Homo sapiens: one gene and its partners. The protein of the gene in region 1 purifies or fractionates together with the protein of each later gene. This does not show direct contact. Each region holds a gene or a part of one and is shown in the gene's direction. Other genes may lie near its edges. The genes, in order: DCN, MRRF, CHSY3, ITIH2 and LONP2.

Evidence for each region.
Region 2: the proteins of DCN (region 1) and MRRF purify together in Homo sapiens (co-immunoprecipitation; one large-scale study listed by IntAct). This does not show direct contact.
Region 3: the proteins of DCN (region 1) and CHSY3 purify together in Homo sapiens (co-immunoprecipitation; one large-scale study listed by IntAct). This does not show direct contact.
Region 4: the proteins of DCN (region 1) and ITIH2 purify together in Homo sapiens (affinity purification with mass spectrometry; one large-scale study listed by BioGRID and IntAct). This does not show direct contact.
Region 5: the proteins of DCN (region 1) and LONP2 purify together in Homo sapiens (affinity purification with mass spectrometry, with the first as the bait; one large-scale study listed by BioGRID). This does not show direct contact.

The regions. Positions count from the first base shown.
Region 1 is NC_000012.12:91,139,968-91,142,409, reverse strand, and holds the end of DCN (decorin isoform a preproprotein), read left to right. Parts: 3' UTR 1-1,926; downstream 1,927-2,442. UniProt on the Homo sapiens protein: May affect the rate of fibrils formation.
Region 2 is NC_000009.12:122,313,364-122,316,888, forward strand, and holds part of MRRF (ribosome-recycling factor, mitochondrial isoform 1 precursor), read left to right. Parts: coding exon 1-23; intron 24-3,525. UniProt on the Homo sapiens protein: Responsible for the disassembly of ribosomes from messenger RNA at the termination of mitochondrial protein biosynthesis. Acts in collaboration with GFM2. Promotes mitochondrial ribosome recycling by dissolution of intersubunit contacts.
Region 3 is NC_000005.10:130,180,462-130,183,821, forward strand, and holds part of CHSY3 (chondroitin sulfate synthase 3), read left to right. Parts: intron 1-1,998; exon of another isoform or gene 1,999-2,298; intron 2,299-3,360. UniProt on the Homo sapiens protein: Has both beta-1,3-glucuronic acid and beta-1,4-N-acetylgalactosamine transferase activity. Transfers glucuronic acid (GlcUA) from UDP-GlcUA and N-acetylgalactosamine (GalNAc) from UDP-GalNAc to the non-reducing end of the elongating chondroitin polymer.
Region 4 is NC_000010.11:7,723,801-7,727,325, forward strand, and holds part of ITIH2 (inter-alpha-trypsin inhibitor heavy chain H2 precursor), read left to right. Parts: intron 1-3,149; coding exon 3,150-3,318; intron 3,319-3,525. UniProt on the Homo sapiens protein: May act as a carrier of hyaluronan in serum or as a binding protein between hyaluronan and other matrix protein, including those on cell surfaces in tissues to regulate the localization, synthesis and degradation of hyaluronan which are essential to cells undergoing biological processes.
Region 5 is NC_000016.10:48,355,075-48,357,874, forward strand, and holds the end of LONP2 (lon protease homolog 2, peroxisomal), read left to right. Parts: 3' UTR 1-1,590; coding exon of another isoform or gene 1,591-1,636; 3' UTR 1,637-2,275; downstream 2,276-2,800. UniProt on the Homo sapiens protein: ATP-dependent serine protease that mediates the selective degradation of misfolded and unassembled polypeptides in the peroxisomal matrix.

The DNA.
Region 1 (2,442 bases):
ATCTTATCTTTATACGAAGGAAGAATTGCCTAATCCCTCAAGTAAACTAAAAATGTTTTATACAGTCATTTCTCATTCATCCAATGTTCCAGGCAGTCCCAGTCCAAGACTGCCCCTTCACACACACAACAACTCTTCACAAGACTTCACTGTCCTTCAGACTCTCCTGCAGCACAGACATTCGAGGTTGCTGAGTCGACATTGCAGTTATTTCACTCTTGATTTTGCTGCTCAATTTTAAGTTTCCACACTTATTGCTAAAACATTCCTTCTAGTGGATCTGTTTATGTATTCAAGCACACCATCTGTCACAATTATTTCAAATCACAGGTCTGTGACAGACTGTCAATTTCACACCACAAAGTATAATAGTGGAAAACAAAGTAAAATCAAGAAAGGGAGAACACTAAACTTATTAAAACCATATACAAGCATACGCATTCAGGAAACTAAAACAACCTTCAAAGAAGTTGAACAATTTTGAGCCAAAAGAAAGGGCATATGCACACCCTACCCCAGTATAAGATAACCAGAAAAGGACTGGGTGAGTTGCCTCCTGAGTATTATGACTGCCATCAATCACTTAGGCATTGGAGATCAGGAGACTCTTCCCAGGCCACACATTCTGCAGTGACTGTGAGGGCTGAATGAATGCTTCCAGGCCATCAGGAACAAGCATAGAAACACAAATCAATTTTAAAATACACTCAAAAATGTCAAAATAATCCAACTTTTTTGTCTTGATCAGATATATCTACTAGCACATATTACTTCATTTTTTCAGCCAATATTTATTAATAACCTACTGTGTGCTTGACAGTGTTCTAGTGGCAGAGACACAGCAGTGCATAATGCCTTGCCCTCTGAAGCAGATGTTGCAGCAGGAGGAGACATTCCAGGACATGACAATTAAAGTGGAGGAATGTCAAGCAGAACTGGGGAATAAGGGATGTGAAGGGGGTGAGACTTGCTATTTTATATAGGATGGTCGGAAAAAGGACTTATCAGGAGTGACATTTGAGCAGGGAGATGAAGAACTGAAGGGAGCAAGCCAAGAAAAGAGGCCCTGAATTTGGAAAATACATGGCACGTTCCAACAAGAGCAGAGAGGACAAACGTGAGCAGAGTAAAGTGAGCAAGAAGAGATAATATATGATACAAGGTCAGAAAGGTAATGACAATCGCATCCTGTAGGACTTTTTAGGCCATTGTAAAGATGAGCTTTTACTCTGAGTAAGACAGAGAGCTATTAGAGGGGTCTCGGTAGAGGAGTGACTTGATTCAACTGTCTTTGAGAGGATCCCTTTGCGTGTATAGACTGTAAGGTAACAGGAATAGGCCAAGAGAGAATATTTCGGATGCTAGTGCAATAATCAGGTGAGAGATGATGAAGACTTTGACCTGGATAATAGTAGAAAAATTGTTGAGAAGGGATCAAAATATGGGGTTTGTTTTGATGGTAGAGAGGCCAGGGATGGCTGAATGATCAGATGGGGCATGAGAGAGAAAGAAAAGAAACAGAGATGACTTCAGGAATTTTGGCCTGGGCCACTGGAAGGATGAAGTCACCATTTACTGAGATGGTAATGACTGGGAGGTTGAGCTGGAAGAACTGAGAATCAAATATCTGGTTTTGAATCTGTTCTTTTTGAGATGCATATTCAACTTCCATATGGAGGTGTCAAGGAGGATTTAGATCTAGAATTTTGGAGCTCAAGGGAAAGGGTTGAGCTGTAGACATAAATTCTAGAGATGCCGGAATATAGATTGTGATCCTTCTTTATCAGCACAGAAATGACTTGACTTTGTCCAAACTAAGCAATCATACTGTACATGTTAGCAACACATTTTACAGGGCCAATTTGGCCTTTTGCAATGTTCTGTGGTTTCTAAGATAAATAAACATATTATATGTTTCCCTCTGGATGCCTTTGCTATGATCCTGTCAGCATTTCCAAAACAGTTCTTGCTTGAACACCACCAAGGAAAGAAAAAAACCTCTTGAGAAAGAAATCATTGTTTTTTTTTTTTTTTTTTTAAATCCCTGTGTTTTGGCTTATGAGTTTAAAACTTACAAAAACAGTCTAGTTTCTGTTTTCTTCAAGAATTCACATTAACAAAAGTGTGGCTTGGTGCCTGTTTTGAATGTGAGTTGATAACTTGCTGGTGGTTTGACAGTTATAAACAAACAGTCTTATAGCATAAAGAAAGCATATTCCTGAAACTGCAGGAGGTCTCATTGAGCCTCAGGCACTATACCAGCATGTTTAACTAGAAAATCATGAAAACACATACAACTTCTATAGCTAAGGCCATTTTTACATGGAATTGCAGCATAAAATGACTCCATCTAATTCTGTAAAAGTTTATATTGATGACTACTTTATAAAGCACCCATATTGCCACTTGGTCTGACAAAGATATGTGAAAAATATAAAAAAT
Region 2 (3,525 bases), on another chromosome or scaffold:
CCATTAGGCTAATAGAGAAACAGGTACTATTGCCAGCAATGTAGTAGTGTCTGTGTATTCAGCATAAGGAATCATTTGTTCATGTTTGAGGTGAGGACAGTTAAAACAGAATACCTCTGATCTTTCATTCACATTATCACCATTGTCTGAGTCTCTGTTCTGGGCCTAGCCTAATGCCAGATTCAGAGGGATCCATAGAGGAGGATAAGACACTTGTATTGTGTACCAGGTTTTGTGCTGAACACTTTATATTACTTCATTTACCCTCATCACTACAAAACTATGAGGTAGGTAGTAAGGAAACTGAGATTCAGGCAAGTTAAATAACTTGCCCGAAATCACACTGCTGGAAATTGGTAGAAATCGGATCCATACTTAGGCAGACGGATTTCAGAGCCTCTACGCTAATGCTCTCCTGTCTGGTTTTCCGGTTGCTGAGAATTGAGCACTTAGTGTTCTCAGTGTGCTGAGTAGTGGCACTTGAATAAGTCTTAAGCTGCTGGAGTAAAATAGTGAGAGACAAGGGGGAAAAGTGTAACCATATGTACAAAGGTAAGGTGATATAAAAACAATATTCAGTTAAGATCATTGGGGTTTGAACGTAGGATAAGACTAGGGAATGAATAAAGAAAACAGAGTGGCTAGATAATAGAAGGAAGGTCTCGTACACCAGGTTTAGGAGTTTGAACGTTAACATGTACAGACTGTCCCACATTGGCTGTGCATCTATATTAGTCATGTATGGCCACAATAATGGTACATAACTACCCCAAAACTCAGTGATCGACAATATCAAAGCATTATTTCTTGTTCTCATTTCCATGGGCCAGCTGGGGTGTAGCTATTCTAGGCTGGGCTCAGTGGGCTTGGCTCCAGATCTTGGATTGGGTTCAAATCTGCTTTATATCTCTCAATCTTCCAAAGCCAACAGGTTTCCTAGGGCCTCTTTTCATGGTAACAGCAGATGCCAAGATCATAAGCCCAACCACTCAAGTACATTTTAAACACCTGCTCTTGTCACATTTGATTGGCCAAAGCAAGTCACATGGGCCAAGCTCAATATGTTTGGTACAAGGAAATATATATATTTATGGAGGTCTGGGGAAAGAAGTGAATATTTGCTGAACAGCATCTCTCTACCAAAGTACCTTAATCACTTGGGTAGCTTATAAAAATCCAGGTATCTGGGGCCCCATTTCCAGAGATTGAGTCAATGAATCTGGGACAGAGCCAGGAATCTGTATTTTAAATCCTTCTCAGGTGATTCTCATACAGTGACACACTTAAAAGATTTTTTTTAGATGATGGAGAGAGCACATCTATGTTTATGAAAGATGACTATGGTGGCCAGGTAGAAAACAGATTGTAGGGGGCAAGACTGGAGGCAGGGCGATAGGGATGCTGCTGCAGAAATCCAGCCAGGAAGTGATGGTGGCCTGAACCTGAGTGGCACCTGTGGAAAGATGTGGAGATAGAATTAGTAATGTTCAATGTAATATAAAGGGTTTGATAGGCCTTAAAGCCTCCTCATCCACAATAAAGCATTGTTTTAGGGAGATTGAACAGGCATGTGGGCTGGATAGGGAGTGAAGAGAGAAGCGAGAAGCAAGGGACCCCTGGAGAAGTCCATAAGTTGACTAGCTGCTCCCCTTCTCCTCCACCAGCAGTTAAAATGCTAGTTTTACTAGCATTTTACTAGTAGGACAGCCACAACAGTCACCTGGGGGGGGGAATTTTAGGTGGCTTCCTGGGCCCTACTCCTGCATTTTCTGATACAGTAGCTCTGCCTAGGAATGTATATTTTTATTTTACTTACTTTTATTAATTCATTTTTCTTGAGATGGGGTCTCACTATGTTGCCCAGGCTGGTCTTGGGCTCCTGGGCTCAAGCAGTCCTCCTGTAGCTGGGATAACAGATGCGTCCAGCTGGAATGTATAGTTTTAAAAAGCTCTCAGGTAATTGTGTAAAAGCACACATAGAAGATAATGACCTAGAAGCCTGGTAATGTACCTGTGTAATGACACTAGAGTTAGAAAAAGATTGTTCTGCACTTGATGTCCTATGACCTTGGGGAAGTTGCTTGACTCTTTGGAGTCTGTTTTCTGTAAAAAGGGATTGGTAATTTCTGCCTTGAATGGTTTCCTTGGTATGCTAGAAAGCACCATTAGTGTACCTAACACCCAAACCCTCAAAACTCCCCTCTTGCCATCTCTCTGCCCTCCTCCTTCCCTGTATCAGCTAAAAGAAGAGGTTCAGAGATTAGGCGGGCCTTTCCTGTGCACTGACCAGGCCTCATTAATAGTCTGGGCCCTGGCTCCAGCTGGGCCGGCTCCTTGTCTTTCTCCTAGGGGATTTCTTCACTGCTTTCCCTTGTCATTGCTTCTTGGTGGTAAGCCTATGGACCTTCAGGGCCTGCCAGGCACTAGTCACTCAGCAAGCCAGGACATCTGCCTCAGGGACCAGAGCCCACAACTCCTGAAAGAGGAAGAATGATCAGATAGCAAGCATTCTTGATAAAACCCTCTTGACAAAGACCTTGCTGGAAGCCTTCACTCATTAGCACTGGCTTTTCGCCATCCTCTTCAGATTAAATTTTTTTTCTTTAGTGCTTCTTACTGTGATTTTTTTAAGTGAAAATAGCTGTATTCGTTTTGCTGTTAAAACAAGGAAGAAAGTAATTGAAATCTCATCACTCAGATGACTGTTGTTAACATTTTAGTGTAGAACTTCAAGTTATCTCTCGAAACAAGAAAAAGTATCATACAATTTATATGATACGATATATCACAGATATCTTTCTAAACATATTATTATTTAAATGTTTATTTTTATTTATTTTTTATTTTTGTCACCCAGGCTGGAGTGCAGTGGTGCAATCTTGGCTCACTGCAACCTCTACCTCCTGGGTTCAAGCGATTCTCCTGCCTCAGACTCCCGAGTAGCTGGGATTACAGGCACGTGCCACCATGCCCTGCTAATTTTTTTATTTTTAGTAGAGATGAGGTTTCACCATGTTTGCCAGGCTGGTCTTGAACTCCTGACCTCAGATGATCCGCCCACCTCAGCCCCCCAAAGTGCTGGGATTACAGGCATGAGTGCCCAGCTAAATGTTTATTCTTAACCAGGATTGTTAATAACTTAATTTACTGTCATAGAGTTAAAAGTTTGGAACAGTAGAGAGCCTTATATATACTTCATGGTGTTCTTTCTACTGTCAGAAGGCCCCAGACTGGAATTTTTGGTGTGTGTGTGTGTGTACGTGTGCGTGCATGTTTTAAAGATATAAAACAAGGTTATGGCTGATTGTCGCTTCATCAGACAGTTTTAAAATTTTGTTTACTTTTGTTCCTTATTATCAAAGTAATATATGTTCATTGGAGAAAGTTCATCCTCCCCTCCCACATTGGAGAGGCAACCGCTCTTAACATTTTGGAATATTTCTTTTTTCCTTTTTTCTAAAAAAAAAAAAAACTACATAGTTTTAAACATGATTGAGAACATATAGTATATATACAATTTTGTAT
Region 3 (3,360 bases), on another chromosome or scaffold:
CAAATTTTCCATTGCTCCAAAAGTTACCTTGTGCCTATTAGTAATCAACTCCTGTTTTGTTTTTGTTTTTTGTTTTTTGTTTTTTTAATATTTTAAAGTTTCTCAGTTAAGACTGGGCACGGTGCCTTATGCCTGTAATCCCAGACCTTGGGAGGCTGAGGTGGGAGGATCACTTGAGCCAAAGAGTCCAAGACCAGCCTAGGCAACATAGTGAGACCCATCTCTACAAAAGAAATTGAAAAATTAGCCGGGTGCGGTGGCATGCACCTATAAGTCCTAGCTACTCAGGAGGCTGAGGTGGGAGGATTGCTTGAGCCCAGGAGCACTGCAGTGAGCAGAGATCAGGCCACTGCATTCCAGCCTCGGCGACAGAGTGAGACCCCATCTCAAGAAAACAAAAAACAAAAAAGTTTCTCATTTATATAGCTATGATCATTTCAGAAATGACCTATGCTATGTTTTCATTATTAATAATTCTAAGAAAGGTAATGAAAGTTTAATGCGGTAGAAGAGTAAATAATTCAACATAAAACTACCTCTTGGCATTTATTCTTCTTCTGTTAGGTTTTTTGAGAAGATTTTCCTAGAGGCTCTCAGATAATCTTTCTCAGAGGGTGAGATCATGTGTGATACGCTTAAAGCACTGGGGTCAGTCGGGGCACACTGGTGTTCATTGCTGCTGTGATTTTGTTGTTGTGAAATGATTTTTCTTTGCCGTGTAATGTTCTGGAGGTTCCATGAAATCCACTGATAATTCTTTAAAGGAGAGGAAGCCAGCTTAAACTAAAGGTTCTTAATTATTTCAAGCAAATTAATATAATTTTTAAAATAAATTTTACACATATTTTTCTTAGAACAATTTCGCTATGTTCAAAATGTATCATGATCTATAGAAAAACTGAAAATCATGAGAATTCTAGTTTTAATTTTATTCTCATCATTCTCAATAGACACTTGGGTGAATAACTCTGGGAAAATCTCTCTGATATCTTCTCTCTCTCTCTGTCTCTCTCTCCAGGCCCACATATCCACACATTTATGAACATACATGTCAGAAAAGCATATCTAATTCTATGTGCATATATATGCATACTTTCAAAATAAAGTCCTTCATTAATTGGAGTATAGCAGATAAATATATCTTAAGCAGCAGTTCAGTGAATGTTCACATATTAAATGCACACATATGACCACCACCTGGATAAATAAAAGAACATTACCAGCACTCCAGAAGCTTCCCTCTTCTTGATTCTTGATCATTATTCCAACAGCAAACCATATAGGTTAGCTTTACCTGTTTCTGAATTTCACATAAATGGAATAATACAAAATGTATATGGCTTCTTTCATTTTTTGTGAGATTCATCCATGTTGTTGCAAGTAGTATTTCAAGTATTTAATTGATGTATTGTTTTTCATTACATGAATATACTACATTTATTCTGTTCTTGATGTAAATTTAGGTTATTTTCAGTTTTGGAGTATGAATAATGCAGCTACGAAAATTATTCTATATATATTTAGGTGTATGTATGTATATATATATATGTATTTCTATTGGGCATATATCTAAGAGAGAATTACTGACTCATAGGGAATATGTATGTTCATTTTAGTTGATACGGGTTTTCTCAGTGATAGAACCAAGTTATATTCTCACTAGCAGTGTATGAGAGTTCCAAATTTTCCACTGCCTTCACAATGCACAGTATTATCTATCTGTTTTTTTGTGGATCCATCACGTTATCCCATAGTAATTTTAAGTTGCTTTACCTTGATGATGAATAAAGTAGAGAATGTTTTTATATGTCTATTGAGTATTTGCATACTCTTTTGTGAAGTACTCATTCAGGTTTTCTTTGTCACTTTTCTGCTAGGTTTGTCCTTCCTTTTTTCCTTATTTGTATAAGTTTATTATATGTTCTGGGAATTGGTTCTTTTTCATAAAATCTATTGAATTTTTTTTCTCCTGCTCTGTAATTGCCCTTTATTATTTTCCTAATGGTGTTTTTAAAGAACAAGGTTCTTAACTTTAACATAATGTAATGTATTAGTCTGTTTTAATGGTTAGTGCCTTATGCCCTATTTATAAAATCTTCACATACCCAAAAGTCTTGCAGATATTTTCATGTAAGTTCTAGAAACTTTTTAAAGCCTTTTTCTAAAATAAACCTTTATGTTTACATCAACAGGTCATCCATTGTAGGATGTAGGGGATCCGTTTTTACTTTTTTCCCTTATATGAATATCCTACTGATCTGGCACTAATTACTTAAAAGACCACCCTTTCTCCAAACTGTAAGCTCTATTTTATATTTCTATTACTTTGCTAATTTTTTTCAAGTCTCTTCTTCCTACGTTTTTCACAAATCTCTTTTTATGCTTCTTGCAATATGTCTATCAATGATTTTATTTTTTTCTCCCTTTTTTCCTTAGCCCTGCCAGTTTACTTTTTATCTTTTTTAAGCTTATTTGTCTATTAATTGAGTTTTTTTTTTGAAGAGGCTGTTTTTTTAAATTTATGTACAATTTGTACCTGCTTCTGATGAGTATTCTTAAGTTTGCAATATTTCTTTCTTCTTATTCATCAGTATATTTGCAGACATGGTGCTGCTGGCCTTTTTTCTTCTTTTTCACCTCCTTCTCCTCATCCCCTCTTTTCTTCCTTCTTTTTATTGTTCATAATCACGTATCTCGAGTGGGTATAATGGAGGTGTCTTAATCGACTGGCAGAAAAGGAAGAATCAGCTGGCGGTTTGAACTTTGTCCTCATAACTACATATTTTTTTTCATTTTTGTTTCTGCCTGAACTAGTGAATTTGTTCTAGACTAGCAGAAAGTCTTTTTGTTTCATAAGGATGTCAAGCATGTCTATTTTGGGTATGATACTTTACATCAGGAGTGTAGATCAGTATAGTTTCCGTTTCACCTTATCTTACCAAGAACTTACTCGGTAAAAATAGTATATCAGGATGCTAAATGAAATTTACGACTCCCCTGGCAAATAACTTCTTATTGCCATTCCAAACAACAGGTCATTGGTTTTCCTCCTTAGGGTGAATCCTTATTTTGGAAGACTCATGCTGTGTCCATTCTGTCTCTCTCCTTCTCCGTGATCTGTTATGGGGTTATGGACACAGTCAATTGTTGTTTTATGTATAGCTAGAGGTTCATTTGCAATATTTGAGCCTATGAACCTGACATTTGTGCTCTCACTCATATATAGAAATCAAAAAGTTGATTTCATAGGACTAGAGTGTGGAATGTTGGTTACCAGGGGCTAAGCCAGCTGGAGAGAGGGGTTGGGGAGATTTTTGTCAAATGATACCACATTTCAGTTAGATAGGAGGAATAAATTCA
Region 4 (3,525 bases), on another chromosome or scaffold:
TCCTCTTTCCTGTTTCCTCTTCCTTCTCTTTCTCTTTTCCACTCTCTATCCAATATTTCCTTGAAAAACTGTCTCAAAACTCACCTCTTTGAAAAACAGAATCTCTATATAACCTCTTCTTTCAAGGATCAGTCACATTCTTTTTGCTCTTCCACATGTTTTATTATAATATCTTGTCATTGTCCACATATGACTATTGATTCAATATATACATATTATTTCTAATTATATGGTAATTGCTTGAGAGCAGCTATCCATCTTATGTTTTCCAGCTCAGAGCTCAATATAGGCTTACTTAGTGATAAGTGAGATGTACAGATGCAATACTAAAGACCAAACAAGGAAATGATTTAACTTACCCATCAATCCATCCATCCATTCAACCAAGTTGAACAACCAACTAACCAGTCATAGGGCAACTATTTTTGACCACCCAAGAGTTCACTACTACCCTAAGATCTGTAAGGAACCTAAAAGAAGTCCCTGTCAGCCAGGCACAGTGGCTCACGCCTGTAATCCCAGTACTTTGGGAGGCCAAGGCAGGTGGATCACCTGAGGTTGGGAGTTTGAGACCAGCCTGACCAACATGGAGAAACCCTGTCTCTACTAAAAATACAAAATTAGCCAGGCGTGGTGGTGCATGCCTGTAATCCCAGCTACTCGGGAGGCTGAGGCAGGAGAATTGCTTGAACCCAGGAAGCGGGAGTTGCAGCGAGCAGAGATCGCGCCATTGCACTCCAGCCTGGGCAACAAGAGCGAAACTCCATCTCAAAAAAAAAAAAAAAAAGAAGAGGAAGAAGACGAAGACGAAGAAGAGGAAAAAGAAGACCCTGTCTTTCACAGACCCTGCCTGCCTGGGTCTGTACTCCCAGGCAGGGTTTCTCAGCAGTGGGACTATTGATATTTTGGATGGGGTCATTCCTTGTTGTAGGAGGGCTGTCTGGTGCATTGCAGGATACTTAGCAGCATGGTCTATGGTCTATTTGCTAAATTTTGGTAGCACAACCTCCCCTGCATCATAACAATCAAATATAACGTCAGACATTGCCAAATGTCCGCTGGGGGGAATAATTGCCTCTGGTTGAGAAACATTGCTCTAATACAACAGTTTATTCACTGCTTCCTTCCTTCCATCACTCATTCATTTAACAAATATTTACGAAGCACCTACTATGTGTCATACACTTAGTTCATCTATGAGCAAAACAGACCCAAAGCATAAAAACAGAAACCAAACAAAAAACAGAAAAAAAACGGATGCCTACCCTCTGTGTGCTTATGAAACTTACATCTGAGGGATAGGGGACAGAGAATAAACAATACACATGCAAGTACAAATGTACAAGTACGTTCAATGGCAGCATTTTGATAAAAGTTTTTTTAAAAAATAAAAGAAGCATATGTTAAAAACCAAGAGTGGCAATTGCAGGGGTATGCAATTTTAAATAGGCTTGTCATCTAAATAGGTGGTTTCCTGGAGAAGACCTCTGAGGAGACCCTGAGAAGGTGAAGGGAGAGTTGTGCAGATATCTAAGGGAATTAAATGCAATGAACAGCTCATGCAACAGTTCTAAGTCGAAAGTGTGCAAAGAACAGAGAGAGATGCCAGTAGAGAGGGGCAGTGGGAGATGAGATCTGAGAAGTGAGAGGCAAGGTGGCTCATGGAACACCTGTGCAGTCATGATCAGAGCTGGATTCTGGAATCTGTTTTGAAGGTAGAGTAAACAGTATATCCTGAAGGGCTAGCTGTGAGGCAAGGGAAGAAAAGAGAAGTGAAAGATGCCCCAGGACTTAGCCTGAGTGACTAGAAGGATGAAGTGGCCATCCATGAGTTGACAAAGACAGAAATGTAATCAGACATTGCAGGGAATGTCCCAGTTTGGTTTTGGATGCAAAGTCTGAGATTTCTATTAAGTACCCACGTTGGCCATGGAAGCGTGGTGTTCAAAAGTGAGATGTGGAGACACACAGTTAGGACTCCCCAGCATATAGAAGGTACTGTCAGCATTGGGACTAGGTGAGAATGCCGAGGAGTAGATGGACAAGGGAGCCAAGATCAGACAACAGAGCATTCCAATATTGGGAATTTGGGAAGAAGAGGATAATTGGTGATAGAGACTAATAAAAACAATTAGTAAGTGGGGGAGAAAAATCAAGAGAGAATGAGGCCCTGGAAGACAATTGAGGAATTTGTGTTCAGGAGGGAGATGAGAGCACTTGCCGGTGCATGAGAAATGAAGATGGACCTTTGGATTTAGTGACATTAGCATCATTGGTGACCTTGACAAGGGCAGTTTCAGTAGAGTGACAGGGATGAAAACCCGAAAGGATTGGGCTTATGAGAGAATAGGAAGAGAAGATTTGGAGACAGTGTGTTTAGACAATTCCTCAAGGAATTTTATTGCAGAAGAAAGCTGAGAAATGAAGAAAGTGGATGCACATGAGGTTTGTAGAAGGGTGAGAAATAACATGTTTTTGTTGATGGAAATGTACCAATAGAATAGGGAAATTGAAGAGGCAAAGGACAATTGCTGGAGCCATGATCTTTAGTCAAAGAGAGGGAATGAAATAGTTCATGAATAGATGGGTTTGCATTAGGTAGAAATACTGCTAGTTGTTCTTTATTATCAGGTAGGAAAGAAAAATGTATGGGTACAAATATTGATGGTTGGGATTTTATGGTAGTGGGAGTCTGTGGGAATGTTCTTCTGTCTGCTGCAGTTTCTCAGTGGAGTTGGAATCAAAATCATCACACGTAAGCTAGAGAAAGAGGGTGATGGTGGTGGTTTAAAGAGAAAGATGAGGAAATAGTTTAAGAGACTGGGTGAGTAGATGGACTTGAGAAATGTATTTTATTTTCAGGCATCATAAAGGTGGCACTCGAAGTTTGTGATCCTTAACATAAAGACTAGTCAAACTGGTTGTGCATAGCAAAATAGATAGTAAAATTATCAAAAAGCCAACAGTACATGCCCAGAATAAATAAGGGGCAGGTCTGCATTGACTGAGGTGGGCTCAAGAGGTTTTCTGGAAGAAGTTTAGCTTGAGAAGAACTTGAAAGATGACCAGGATCAATGATTGGTCTTCCTAGTTCCTCTGAGGCTCAGATTTTCTGTAATGGGACCTGTCTTTATTCTCTATTGAAATAGACTGTGGAAGCAATGAAGACCATATTGGATGACCTCAGAGCAGAAGACCATTTCTCTGTGATTGATTTCAACCAGAACATTCGAACTTGGAGAAATGATTTAATTTCAGCTACAAAAACACAGGTTGCAGATGCCAAGAGGTATATTGAGAAAATCCAGCCCAGTGGAGGTGAGTGTGTTGGGCTAAATCCCAAGGAGACACTTCCTCTGGGTTCAAATCATGATTCACTTAAGAAGCATTATTCCCATCACAGTGGTCTTTCCCCAGCATTCGAGGGCCTATCTTAAATAATACATTTATTGGTAATGGATGAATGCTAAGTTTGTAGTGAAAGTAGAATTTGTAATACAGCCCACATAAGCTTTGAACCGTTTT
Region 5 (2,800 bases), on another chromosome or scaffold:
TCTTGGGTATTATGAGTAATGCTATGAACATGGGTGTACACATCTCTCTTGAAGTCCCTTCTTAGGTCCTTTAGGGATACATATCCAGGAGCAGAACTACTAGATCACATATGCTAAGGTCTGAATGTCCCCCCACCAAATTCGTATGTTGAAGCAACCACCAACGTGATAGGTGAGGCTTTAGGAGGTGATTATGTCATGAGAGCTCCATCCTCATTAATGGATTTAGTGCCTTTATAAAGGGGCTCAAGGGAACCAATTACCTCCTTTTTGCCCTTCGATTCCCTTCCACCATATGAGGACACAGCAACAGGCCCCGTCCTAGAAGCTGAGACTGGGCCCTCAATAGATGATACCAGTCTGCCAGCACGCTGATCGTGGGCTTCTCAGTCTTCACAACTATGAGAAATAAATTCGTACTTTTAAATTACCCAGTCTCAGGTATTCTGTTACGGTTAACACAAATGACTAAGACAACAGGATAATTCTGTTTAACTTTTTGAGAACTGCCAAACTTTTCCACCGCAGCTGCACCATTTGACATTCCTTCCAGCAATGCACAAATGTTCCAGTTTCTCCACATCCTTGCCAGCACTCATTTTCTGGGTTTTTTATAATAGCCCTCCAAATGGGTGTGACGTATTTTGATTCTATGTCCCTAATGACTAGTGATGTTGAGCATTTTCTAGCATTGATTTTTAAGATGTTACCCAAAGACCCCTTGTATCAAAATAAGCTGGATTTTTTTATTGAAAATTATTAACTCTAGAAATTTTAGTTTAAACTAGACTTAGGGATATGTGTATTTTACCGGTATTCCACGTTTTATGCATGGGTTTTTAAAACTTCTCAAGTATTAAAACTAAAAGCTTTAGGTGCTTTGCTTATCAAGAAATCCTACACTGTCCACTGGAGACATCCATGTTTTTACTTGGCTCTGCCCCTTTAGTGGTCCCTGTGAACCTTACCTCAAACCATGCATCTGGGGCAGAGATCCTTACTTGCTTGGTGGTTACAAATGCAAATACAGTGAAGAATGTCATCTTTGTGATTGTTCCTGAAATAGTTCACGAGAAATCCATGACCGTAAAGTACTGTGATAGTGATGTCTACCACTGTGAGCTTCCAGTACTAGGTGATTGGTCTGCATTCACAGTGACCAAAATCAGCTATGTGGCCAGGTAATTCACTGCTGAGGGCTTTGGATTTTCCTTTATGAACTACTGAAATGAGGTCAACTTGACTATTACTAAGGGACATTTTGCTACAAAGAATGTTAGTTTTGCCAATTCCCTTTCCAAATCTAAAATTTATTTTAACCAGGATTTTAGATGTAAACATCAAGTAGTTTTGGTTGTTTCAATGAAGTAACATGTTTAAGCTCACATTATTTGAAGTACTTCAGTTCCTATTGCCATGAAAATTGTATCCAGCAGCTAAAAAAAAAAAAAAAAAAAAAGACTACAGTTAGTCATTATCCAATTTGATGATTTATGGTCCAACACTAATGCTCATTTTTTTTGTTTGTTTTACAAACATTTGGTGGATACCACAATGAAAACTGCACTTAAAAAACAAAAATGCTGAAAGAGGAAGGAAATATCAAAAAGGTCTGAATAGACAACAGGCAAATATGGTGAGTGGTCATTGAGATGTTTTAAAAGTTACAGCAAAAGGACTTCTAAAACAATTTTAGGAAAAGCTTTGTCATGAAAATTCATTTCTTTGGAAATACTGTAGTTTGTACTTAATGACACTGTCAGCACATTTCTAGGCAATACAAACTCTTGAGGCTAAATCCTCATCCTGACATGACAGTGCAAGCCTGTCAAAATGTGACCCCAAAACCAGGTGTCCTTTTGCTCCATTATTTATATCTGTAAACCTGTTATTATTTTCAGAATTCAGAAAGGCCTAAGAAAATTACATCTATGATAATAAAGTGTATTTCTTTGTCAAGTTTCTAGAGCTATATAAGGATAGCGAAAATATTTGGTTCAGCAAGACACTGGGGTATCAAGTCAGGCATAATAAGCACTTTATAGCACATCTAGCCTTCCTCATTCCCTTACGCAGTGGACATCATACCCTTTTGTGGAGGAGGGACCAGGCAGAGAAGGTATTTAAATAAAAACTGGTAGATACAGAGTCAGAAGTCAACCCAGGCAGTTAGAATCTACAACCCACACTGTTTGCCACCAAATCTTAGTAGATGCTTGATAAGGAATTTTGTTTGGATGGTGCCATTTTTAGATAAACGTACGTTTCTTTTGGTAAATTCAGGTTAGGATCATAAGCAGTAAACTACCAAATACTCCTTTGTGCTTTGAACATGCACACTGGATGAGTGGGGAGGGGAATGACAAAGCTTCAAACTCCGGGTCTCTGTAACACTCTATCTGTACCTTTCATGTTTAACCTACACAAATACCACAGTCCTGCGTGGTAGTTCACACACACTATTCACCCTGTCGAGTTTCGACATTACTTTTATGTCCATTCTAATGCAGCAGTCACAGACTGACCCCCCAGGTATGTTGGATTTGATCCATTATTTTCTTAATTTGGATTACTTACCAATTCTTCTAATCAGGAGTGTGAATGAAATAGAATTCTACCATTAGTAGAATCACTGCAGATGTTTCTAAATATGAAGAGCTTTTGGGGGTTGGAGGCAGCACACTATTATTTTGGTGAGCTAAGCTATCTACAGCCACTTACATACGTTTGAAGTTTGCAGAAAGGTGGGTCTTAAAATCATACATATTACAATAAAAATTACTCACAAAGGAAAAACTGT